3 linked regions of the Homo sapiens genome follow. The protein of the gene in region 1 purifies or fractionates together with the protein of each later gene. This does not show direct contact. Each region holds a gene or a part of one and is shown in the gene's direction. Other genes may lie near its edges. The genes, in order: SAMD9, EEA1 and EOGT.

Region 1 (4,176 bases):
TCTCTTGGCTTTCCTGGTATGTTGCTGCAGTAATTCTTGAAGCAAAAGTTCATGATGTGAGTCTCCACATGCTGTCCTGTCTGTCCCAGCAGGAGCTGCAAGCTAGTCCTGCCTCCTCACCCTCACAGAACCACCAGAATAATGTTTGACCAAATATCTAGGCACTCTGTGGCCCGGTCAAGTTGACCCATAAAATTAACCATCACACTGGTCCCCATGCAAAGTGAAACCCAGGTTTTGGAGTTCAGGCCCAGGGTCCCCTTACGAGGAGGGCTCCTGAGGGTGATAAGTGTAATGGTCATATCTAGGCTGTCCTTCATAGCCACTTTCTTTCTTCCTAAACCTCAGGATTTAAGAGCACTGGCCTGAAACCTGGATTCGAATCTCTGCCATGTATTAGTTATGCAAACTTTAGCCATATTATTTAATCTCTATGCCTCAGTTTCTTCACCTTTAAAATTGAGATAAAAATAATCTCTACCTCAGGAGATTGTTGTGAAGAGTAATTAAGTTAATATGAAACATTTAGAACAATGCCTGGTACATGGTAAGCGCCCAATAAATATTTTAAAATAAATGTTTTTAAATGTTTTCATCTAAAACCAGTGTGAATCAGTTGTGGGATGTGGAAACCAAAAGCTAATTGAGCACACACAATAAATATCAGTACTTGCTGTTAGTTTTTAAAATATCAGCTATTTTTGTTGCTCTCACTCAGGCAGTTTTCTCTCTGGCCCTGACACTGACCTTAGAAAAGATAAATCTCTACAATGTGACCATCAGGTCTGCTGCAGCCCTGGTCTGCTCTGCAATAAATGAATTTAGCACTTATTGGGGTGCTCAAAGAAGTCCTATCCCTGAAAGACATTCTTTACACTTTAGGAAAACAGGAATGGACAGTAACTCCACCCTTAAAGGCCAGTGAAATATTGACCTAGAGTATCTCCAACCTGGTGCTCTACAAGGCTGGGACTGCAATGTAAACTCATATTCCCAAGGGATCAATTAAGCCAGAATATCCCACAGTTTGTCTATAACAAGACAATGGGGCTTTCTGCAGCCCTCAAAACTCTCAAGTGAGGAAAAATTGTTAAGCCTTCAGATTTTAACCAAGCAGACCAGAAGGTGGTATATAGCCATAGCTTATTAAAAAGCATTTCAGATAGAAAAGGCGGTGCTGTAATTTCAGATCTGAGAAATGAAACTGAAACCAAACCTATATTCTTCCTTCCCCAACCTCCCAGTTGTTAAACACGCCCTGCTGTTTCTGAGCCAATTAGAGCTTGCTGTGAGACAGAAGCAGAGAATACATAGACTTCCGTTAAAACCAGAATGAGGAAAATACTTTTCTCTAGCATCGTAGGAGGAAGAAAACAAACACATCAGATATTTTCAGCACTAAAAGAGATGGTTTTCCCCACATATATGTAAAAGAAATTTGCAAGACTACTGGGTAAGTACAATATCTATTATTAATATTGTTCTTACTATCTATAGCAGCATTTTATTGAATAGAAAGAAATATACTTTTCAATTAGAAGCTTCAAATATACCTCAAAACAAAAAATAGTATTCTAAGCCTAGAAATTCTAGACTATTTGTTGCTCTGACAGCAGTCTGCTTTATATTAGTTGAAAAATTAGTCATAACATTTCATTAAAGATGCAGTTGAAAACTACAGACACTTTTATTGATGAACTCTCCCAAGGCATACAGCATCTTCAGAAAGAACAAACAGGCCAGGTGTGGTAGCCTGTAATTTGAGCACTTTGGAAGGCAAGGACAGGAGAATTGTTTGAGGCCAGGAATTCAAAATTAGCTTGGGCAACATAGCAAGACCCTACCTAGCAAGATTCCTACCAAAAAAAAAAATAGCTGGATGTGGTGGCACGCAGCTGCAGTCTAGCTACTTTGGAGGCTGAGGCAGAAGGATTGCTTGAGCCCAGGAATTTAAGGTTACAGTGAGCTGTAATTGTACCACTGCACTCCAGCATAGGCAACAGAGTGAGACACTGTCTCAAAAACAACAACAACAACAACAACAACAACAACAACAAACGGAAAGATAGATAAAGAACAGGCAATGAAAACTTAAAAGTACTTTACTTTAATCAAATACAACTTCCACCATCTACTCTAAGAAATAGGTAGCTTCCAGAAAACAAAACTCTCTGAGAGCTTCTCAGATATTGTTGTCGGATGACATACATAGGAAGACAGACAGACAGATAGACTACTATGGGAAGTCTTTGGAATTAAGGCAGCTTTATGTTCCTGGCAAAAATACTAGGTTTATGTCTAATTTCTCCCCAAAGCAAACAGTAAGATAATGCAAGACGGTTGGAGGATCACATTTCTGAATAAAGGTCTGACCTTCAACTCCCTTCTAGAAAAGTTAACAAACCCTACAGTTTAACACCAACCAGAGTTAAAAAATGTATGTGGGTTCAATCAGTAACAAATAGTGTTTCCTACTAAGATGCTCAGAACCAAATTTTCAGGTCAGTTTTTAAAGTATACGGAATCAAAACCAGTAATTTTAGGTACTAATTTTACTCCCTCATTTCACCTTTTCTCCCCCTACCCTTATTTAGCCTTCCCCATGATTTCTTTACCTAAGGGTTTTAATATATGTGTGATCCTATATTACTTTCTAAATTACCTAAAAAACATTTTGGAACGAGAGGGTATAAAGAAATCATTAATATGTAAAATATCTATGAACAGTGGCATAAATACCTATGAATGCTGGCATATATTTTCTCCAAGAGTGACATCATCAACAATTTTTTTAAAATAATGTATTGAAAGGCACAGCTATCAATAATCTGACAAAAGCTTTAGGGGAAGAAGTGTGAAAGTGTAACCTGTTCAATGACATTTGAAATATTCATAGTGTCTCTAGTAGAGAAAACAGTCAAAAGTCACTTCTTTATTATTTGCTTACTTTCCCAACCAAATGTTCAGGCCCAGTTCTCCATCCCCCACACTCTTATATGAGAACCTGACTTTACGTTTTCACATATAATGGTATGTAGTTCTTGCATGAATCAAATAATCCATCTAATTCACCAGTCTCATAATCTAGTTTATGACATATCACCAGAGACTAAGGACTGTGTCTGTAAAACTGTGAAAGGTCCAAGTTGATGAAGGAAGTCAGGGAGACCCTAGGAAAAGGGTACTGGTGGGAAGCGGCGAGATGGGGGATGAGAGCCATAGGTATGAGGCCTCAGGAGCCAGCGCACGCTAGCAGCACAATAATCGGGGACCCCTGCTTTATGTGTTAAATAGTGTGGGTGCAACAAAAGTGAGCATACTTTCATAGGGTGGAGTAGACGTGACTCAGTAAATGGATACAAGAAAGTGACTCAGATAGAATGGTTACTAGACGAGGGTGTAGTCAGTTTTTAGACAACTCTAAAACCAGTATTGAATCAACACTGAGTGGGATGCAGAAGTCAAAAGTTCATAATCTGAGACTGCAATAATAAACACCTAGTAAAACTTTAGGACCTCACATACCATTGAATTCACAATTATCCTTGATTCATAACACACCATCATCTTTTTTATGCAAGTATCTCTTTTATTTTATTCATCCGTTTTATTTTCTAATGTATTTTGGAGGCATTATTGGCTTTTTAAATACAGTATAACTTGTATACAATGAACAAACTTAAGGGTAAGCCTTTATGAAATTTTAATATGTACTTATCTGTGCAACCGCTAGCCATATCAAGATATAAAATATTTCCATCACCCCTTCCCAGAAAATATCCACCCCCCAACATCAGTCTGACTTCTATGACAGATTACTTTTGCCTATTCTTAAACTATATAAGTAGAATTCTACAATATGTTTTCTGTTGTAACTGGCTTCTTTCACACAGTATGATGTGATATTCATTCATGTTGTTGCCTGTATCAGTACTTTAATAATTTTCATGAGAATTGCAGATCCAAAGAGTAGGTATATATTTAACTTCACAAAAACTGATAGTTTCTTGAAGTGGCTAAAACAATGTACATTCCCACAGACAGCATATGAGAGCTCCACTGACTCCACATCATCACCAACATTTGGCATTAACAGTCTTTAATTTTAGCCATTCTGGTAGGCATGTAGTATTATCTTGTTGTAATTTTACTTTGCATTTCCATTACGGTAAACAT
Region 2 (3,656 bases), on another chromosome or scaffold:
TTAATTATGATTTTTATGCTGAAATTATATTGATTTTATTCTGAAATTATAGGAAGAATCAAAGATTAACGAAGTTTTACCAAATAATTTTACCATAGTCATCATTTGTAAGAATAAAAGTAGTTACCCTTCAGCAATAGTTCTAATATTTTTGTAAAGTAATTAATAATCCCTTTGCATGTTATCTTGGCATATTGTGACTTTCAGTGAGGCTTGTTTGCTTTTTAAAGCCTTTGCACCAAGAATTGGCAGTTGGACTGAAAAAGACAAAAACAAATAAATAAATGACAAGATAATCAGTCTTATTACTACTCAGCTTTTCTAATTGGTGATTCTGTTAACATTAAAGGAGTTTTTAGTAATCCAAATTACTTATAACTCATTTACTCATGTTTTATATAGATGCCATTAATAATTAATTGAGTATGGGCTGTATTCTTTTCTGTATCTGAAAGCAGAGTGGAAATTGTTTACTGCATTTGAGATGACTATTTCACATTTAATACACTTAAATAACTTTTCCACAGTGCAAGATGTAAGTTACCTTGGCAGGAAATTTACCTTTTGGGGAAAATATATTTTAAATACTTAAGGTTCTTAGCAATCAGTATGTCTTAGTTCAATGTATAGAGAAACAAAAAGTCAGATATACTAGGAAATGCCTTATTAAACTCTTTCAGATGGGTATAATTCTTTAAAATATAAAAATAATGCCAAGGTAGTATATTATTTTGTTCCTAATACATGTGACAAATTAAGCCTTATGGAATCTGTTATTTCTGCTTCTTTTAAAGTTGACTTGTCCTGAATTAAAAATTTATGCTTATAAAGCCAATTTTTTTAGTAGTGATAGTTTGATAGCATTTTTTTTTTTTTTTTTTTTGAGACAGAGTCTCGCTCTGTCACCCAGGCTGGAGTGCAGTGGCGCGCGATCTCGGCTCACTGCAAGCTCCGCCTCCCATGTTCACAGCATTCTCCTGCCTCAGCCTTCCTAGTAGCTGGGACTACAGGCACGTCCGCCATCAGGCCGGCTAATTTTTTGTATTTTTAGTAGAGACGGGGTTTCACCATATTAGCCAGGATGGTCTCGATCTCCTGACCTCGTGATCCGTCCGTCTCGGCCTCCCAAAGTGCTGGGATTACAGGCGTGAGCCACCGCGCCCGGCCGTGATAGGATGTTTTAACTAATGCAAGTTTTAGTAGTGATAGCTTGATAGCATGTTTTAACTAATGCAAATGTTCAACTATTATAGGTGTTCTGTTTGATTGTAATAAGAAGCATGATTTGAAGTATGATTTCATGAATTGCATGGTTTATTGCCAAAGAGAGATTTTCTTCGGTTCACAGTGCTTAAAAGGGAGAGAAATAACATGAACAAATCTTACAGGGAATATCAATAGATGAGGTATATTAACCATATAGTGGGTGAGTTCCAAAATTATTAAAGTCTAGTCACTTTCTCAGGATGGAAGCAGGCTTTTGTGAAAAGTAAAGTCTAAAAGGGTTGAGGTGTACCTTTTTTTATGAGCAGTCTCTCTGGAGAGATGGCATCCAAAACAGTGGAGATCCCAGACAATGGGGATCTCCTGCTGCTAGAGGAGATGTAGGTGTTGGCTGCCGAGACTCAAAGATCTAAGGCCAATAGGATATGGCCCTATTGCAGCATGAGCTGCCAGTCTCAAAGAAAGCAGCTGAAAAAGTGCAGCCTGCCATGGCCTAAGCTTTCAAAGTATCTTTCAAACTCTTTGGTTAATATGTATTTTGAAGTCCAGTAGTTGAGGTCAGTAGCTCAGATCTGCGGTATGATAAGGTCTGATGTAATACTACTGAAGAGAGGAGAAGTTCATTCCAAGTTCTCACATATGGGGTCTAACAGGTATTACATGCTTGAGCGGAGGGGGATAACACTCCAAGTTCTTATGACAGCAAAATATGTAGCATCCATGTAGCAAACTATGTTAGTGTTAGAAGTTATTTCAAAGCTACATACTAATACGATTGAATGTTGCCAGTTGACTTAAGTATTTGTTTTAGAATCTATATTTATAATTACAATAATTGTGCTATTTATTTATTACTGAATTCATGGAATTTAAGATGACCATAATAACTTCATATATATTAACATACAAAAAAATCTATGTTAGAACTAATAAACTGAAGTTAGATCATTAGGCTAGTCTGCCTGCTGGTCTCTTACAGATCTGGAAGAATGGAAACCACCAAATTTAAATTTTCACCAAAATCTTACTACTTACCTGAAAGAAAGTGACTTTCAGAGATTTTTTAACATTGACCATTTTAACAGTATTATCTTTTCCTTTTAATTCATTTGTTTATGTCTTTTGTTTTAATTGAGGAGGCCAAACCTGATGGGTTGGTGACTGATTCATCAGCAGGTAACTTTACTTAAAGCAGATATTTTGTCAGTTTTCTTTTTCTTCTTATTTGTTTTCCTTTCTTTTTCTTTGATGCCTGCCAAATGAATTTTGTTTCATGGTTATGCTTTATGACTCTAAAACAGTGAAGATAATGGTCATATTCTAGGTGTAGAGAGTTACATGTGAACTTCATAATTTAATCAGTTAACTAAAAGTTTAGTTTTTTTAGTTCATTATATTTTGAAGTAAGAAACTTCTGGAATATTACATTAATATGGTTGTTTAATGAAATTTTAAGTCTATATTAAGAGTAAGATAGTTTATTTTCTTTATGATGAAGTATTAGGAGTTGACTGCATACTTTAATGAATTAAAAGGCCTTGAGATCTTAACCATTTCCAACATCCCGCTTTATAACTAATTTTATCAGAGGAGCAGAATGTTTTCCTTTTTGAGCCAGGCTTGGTGGCTCATGCCTATAATCCCAACACTTTGGGATACTGATAGGGGAGGATGGCTTGAACCCAGGAATTTAAGATCAGCCTCCGTAACATAGCGAGACCCCATCTCTTAAAAAAAAGATAAGGGGTGTATTCCTTTTTGGTCATTTGATGGATATGGGAAAATAACTGTGAAATGTGAAATCAAAATAACTTGTAATAAAATATTTATAGATTATTTAGCAGTGATTCTAAATATTCATTTCATTTGTAGTGTATGTTTGTAAATTATGATTTGTACCTTAAGTGAAGCAGATATACTTAATTTCTTGAAGTGTCAAAATACTACTTGTAATTGGATAATAAACTTAAGTTGATCATCTTTACAACTGTAATAAATATAAGTAATAACAATTTAGCATATGTAATTAACATGGTATTTGAATAACTGCGACACTTTTTTGTAGAACTACAGTCTTTGGAACAGCAATTAGAAGAAGCCCAAACAGAAAATTTTAATATTAAGCAAATGAAAGACTTATTTGAACAGAAAGCAGCCCAACTTGCTACTGAAATTGCAGGTAAATTGAGTTAGAATTTTTTAGCCAATAAATCAATCTCATTACCTTTTTGCCATTATATACCCTAGCAATAAATATAGTATTTTAGTGTGTTAAAGCATTTGTGATAGACTTCCAATGGTGATTAATGGAATTTAATGATTTCAGAGTTGCTATGTAAATTATTTTGTTTGTCCTCTAGCTGCCTGCCTTCAAAGGACTGGTGTTTCTTTGTAGATTCTTCTTGAAATTTAGAGAAGATACATTTTCTTCT
Region 3 (3,656 bases), on another chromosome or scaffold:
GGAAACCCTGTCCTCCTTATCCCACATTTATCAGATAGTCATATTTTAAGACAGTCGAAATATTTTTAGGTTTAGAATCATTCCCCCAAACATGTGCTAATGAAGAGAAATTGATAAACTGCGTCTTTACAAATTCATTCTCAGATAGTTTGGGACAGATGATATAACACCACCATACTGCTCTATATTTGCCCAGAGCTTTACAGTTTGCAGAAAGCTTTTCTGTGTGTTATCTCGTTTGATGCTTATAAGCGTTATAGCAGATACTACTGATGCCACTTTATCAGTATGGAAAACAGGGTCCTCAGAGGAGTTAAGCAACTTCTCCAAGACTGCACAGCTACCTTTTAAAATTAATTACACATCTAGGATTAAAATGCAGGTTTTTTTCCAGTTTACTTTCAACCATACCATATCGTACCTCAGTGGATCAGATAAACACGTTGTCAAGAGGTGGTTTGGGGTAGTAAATACAAGAGCAGGCTCTCAACTACAATTCAGATCCTGAGTCTTAGACAAGGTACTTAGGCTTTCCTTGTTTCAATTTCCTCTGCCTTAAAGCCATGCCCATTATGTAGCATATGGTAAGGAAGAAATGAGGTTCTGCAGATAAAAATGCTCAGTGCAGCAGGGCCTGGTTCCCGGCCAAGGGCTCAGCATTATTTTTTAAAGGTTGATGAAGTTGTAAGCACTTACGATTAAGGTACACTGTTCAATGATCCTGAACCCTGAGTCTCTGACATCTCAGGGGTCTCCGATCTCCAACCACACTGGAGAACTAAAAAAATTTTTTAATTTACTCACATTCAAAAACTGAGTATATACTTTATAGAGCTATTGGAGGGTGTCACGTAATAGAGCTTTGAGCATTCTAGCAAGGTGAATGAGGCCTCAGGATGTGAGGCATGCCATTAAACTGCACGGCCGCAGGGTGTCTTTAACAGAGTTCTGTTCTGTCTTGCACATTTGGCTCAAGTCTAGCTGTTCACATGGAAAGGGCAAGATAATAATGACAACCCCTATCTTGCACTCCTCTTTCAAGGTGGCTTGTAGAATGTTCTTTTGATTAAGATTTACCTTGATTTGCTTTGTGCTAGCAGAGTATGATCCTTGTCTTAGTTGTTTGGGCTGTTATAACAAAATACCATAGACTGGGTAGCTTCTAAACAATATCATCACATTGGGGGTTAGAATTTCAACATATGAATTTGGCAGAGACACGGACATTCAGTCCATTGCAATATTTTACCAACTACAGACTCCAAAACACCATGCAGGTCAAGATTGAGACTTTGTGTTCATTGGGAGTTTTGGGAAAAACAATTAAAATGGCATTTAAATCTATAAATAAAACCCAGAGCAGATAAAAGTTTTTGAAGTTCTGAGCATAACCCAGATTGGTTGAAATAGAATCAGGCTCTGGTAGCTGACTCTTCGACTCCTTTCTTCAATTATTTAGAAAATATTGCCCTCATGTTGCTGTTGAGACAGAGGCTCCCACAAGCTTTACGGTTTGCAGAAAGCACCTCTTATTAAAACTGGCAAACTTCCCTCCCTGCTTTTAATGTCTCTTACATGTGCATTTTTCCTTGTTTCTTTTGGCTTTTGGAAGCTGCTTTTTCATATAGCTGTGGGGGTAGTAGTACTGGATCTGGGTACTTTTTTTTTCTTTTAAAGGGGACTGAACTGAGCCACATATACAGCTCTTGGCTTTAAAATTTGAGGTGACAGATCGTTGGGGAGTTTTCCATGGTAACTTAAAAGTGGGAAACTGGCAAAAGTATGCTTGGCCAGGGTCTGCTGGGAAGGAGAAAATATCCTTCAGCAGATGCAGTCTTTGGAGAGCTTTCCTTGTCATGTTGTGTGGTTTGAATGTGAGGGTATCCGTGCTGTCAGTGTGTCTAGCAAGTCCGGATGAGTCTTTGCTGTGTTAATACTCAGAGTCATTCTTTTCTTTTGCTCAACCTTCAGAGTGACTCAAGTCTGGTGTGTTCCCGTTATCTTCAGTACTGCAGAGCAACCAATCTCTATCTTGATTTAAGAAACATCAAGAGAAATCATGACAGGTACTTTAGTGGTTAATGTTAACATCTAGTATAAATTCTGAAATATTTTCAGATCCAGGGATTTTTTTTTTTTTTTTTGAGACAGGGTCTTGCTCTGTTGCCCAGGCTGGAGTGCAGCGGTGTAATCATGGCTCAGTGCAGCTGTGACCTCCCAAACCCAAGTGATCCTCCCACTTGAGCCTCTCAAGTAGCTGGGATACAGAAGCGCACCGCCAGGCTTGGCTAATTTTTTAATTTTTGAAGAGATGGGGTCTTCTAACGTTGCCCAGGCGGGTCTCAAACTCCTGAGTTCAGGTGATCCTCTCACCTCAGCCTCCCAAAGTGCTGGGATTATAGGTGTGAGCCACCAAGCCTTGCTGAAGGGGTATATCTTGAATTTGTTTTTGATGATATGGCAGAGGGGTTGGGGAATGGGTGGGGGGATGGATGACTCAGACAGGCCATGAGTTAATCGCATTGCAAAGTTGGGTTGTGGATACATTAGGGTCCTGATAGGATTCTGTTACTTTCATATACACTTGAAATTTTCTATTGTAAATAGTTAAATTCTTTTAAAAAATTCAGTTTGGAAATTGGTAATCCACTTTAGTTACAACCCACGTGCTTGGGTCATGAAGACGTTTTCTGAACTTAACTTAATGTTTTGTTATATACCAGATTTAAGGAGGACTTTTTCCAGAGTGGTGAAATTGGAGGGCACTGTAAACTTGACATCCGTACATTGACGTCTGAAGGTCAGCGCAAAAGCCCTCTGCAGTCATGGTAAGATATTTTTAACGTATCTGTTTCGGAAATATTTGCCTTTATTTACGGCACTTGCAGATATTAATGGAGACTCTCAAATGGAAAATGTTACTTCATTTGTACATAATTTGGCATGAGCTTCTGGGAAGTGACGGAAACCGAGTGAATCCCTCAGTTGCATCTGAATTAAGTATGTGTTTATAATAGTAGATACAGTACTTACTGTTTGCTAATGAAAGAAAAAAATCAGCTTAAAAATCCATTTTTATTAACTCACAATTGCCAAGTTTTATTCACTTACAAAGTCACATAGGTTACTTACATAATGTTAATTTTTGAGGTCAAACGTCCATGCCAAGGCCAGGAATGGTGGCTCATGCCTATAATCTCAGCACTTTGGAAGGCCAAGGTAGAAGTATTACTTGAGCCCAGGAGTTCAAGGCCAGCCTGGGCAATATGATGAGACCTCAAATCTAAAAAATAAAAATGTGTTTTGGGGAACCCATTTAAAAAACAATACACATATATTAAAGTATGTAAAAGCATACAGAAAAAGGTACAGTTTGGATTGTGAAAAAGTGAACCCACCCATGTAACTTTTACCCAGGTCCAAAAATAGAACATTGTCAGCACCTCAGTCTCCCTCCCAGGCTCTACCCCCATCCCCCTCTCCAAAGGTAGATGCTACTCTGACTGTTAACATCATTGGCCAGCTTTTTGAATTTAAAAAGTTTGTATTTTAAAATAATTTTAGACTCATAGAAGTTTAAAAATAGTATGTATTATACCCAAGACTGACTAACTTACAAAGGAAAGAGGTTTAATGGACTCATGGTTCCTCATGGC

What was found.
Region 2: the proteins of SAMD9 (region 1) and EEA1 purify together in Homo sapiens (co-immunoprecipitation; one study listed by IntAct). This does not show direct contact.
Region 3: the proteins of SAMD9 (region 1) and EOGT purify together in Homo sapiens (affinity purification with mass spectrometry; one large-scale study listed by BioGRID and IntAct). This does not show direct contact.

What each region holds. Positions count from the first base shown.
Region 1 is NC_000007.14:93,115,140-93,119,315, reverse strand, and holds the start of SAMD9 (sterile alpha motif domain-containing protein 9), read left to right. Parts: upstream 1-1,336; 5' UTR 1,337-1,453; intron 1,454-4,176.
Region 2 is NC_000012.12:92,852,659-92,856,314, reverse strand, and holds part of EEA1 (early endosome antigen 1), read left to right. Parts: intron 1-2,360; coding exon 2,361-2,400; intron 2,401-3,289; coding exon 3,290-3,403; intron 3,404-3,656. UniProt on the Homo sapiens protein: Binds phospholipid vesicles containing phosphatidylinositol 3-phosphate and participates in endosomal trafficking.
Region 3 is NC_000003.12:69,003,550-69,007,205, reverse strand, and holds part of EOGT (EGF domain-specific O-linked N-acetylglucosamine transferase isoform a precursor), read left to right. Parts: intron 1-1,971; coding exon 1,972-2,066; intron 2,067-2,723; coding exon 2,724-2,828; intron 2,829-3,656.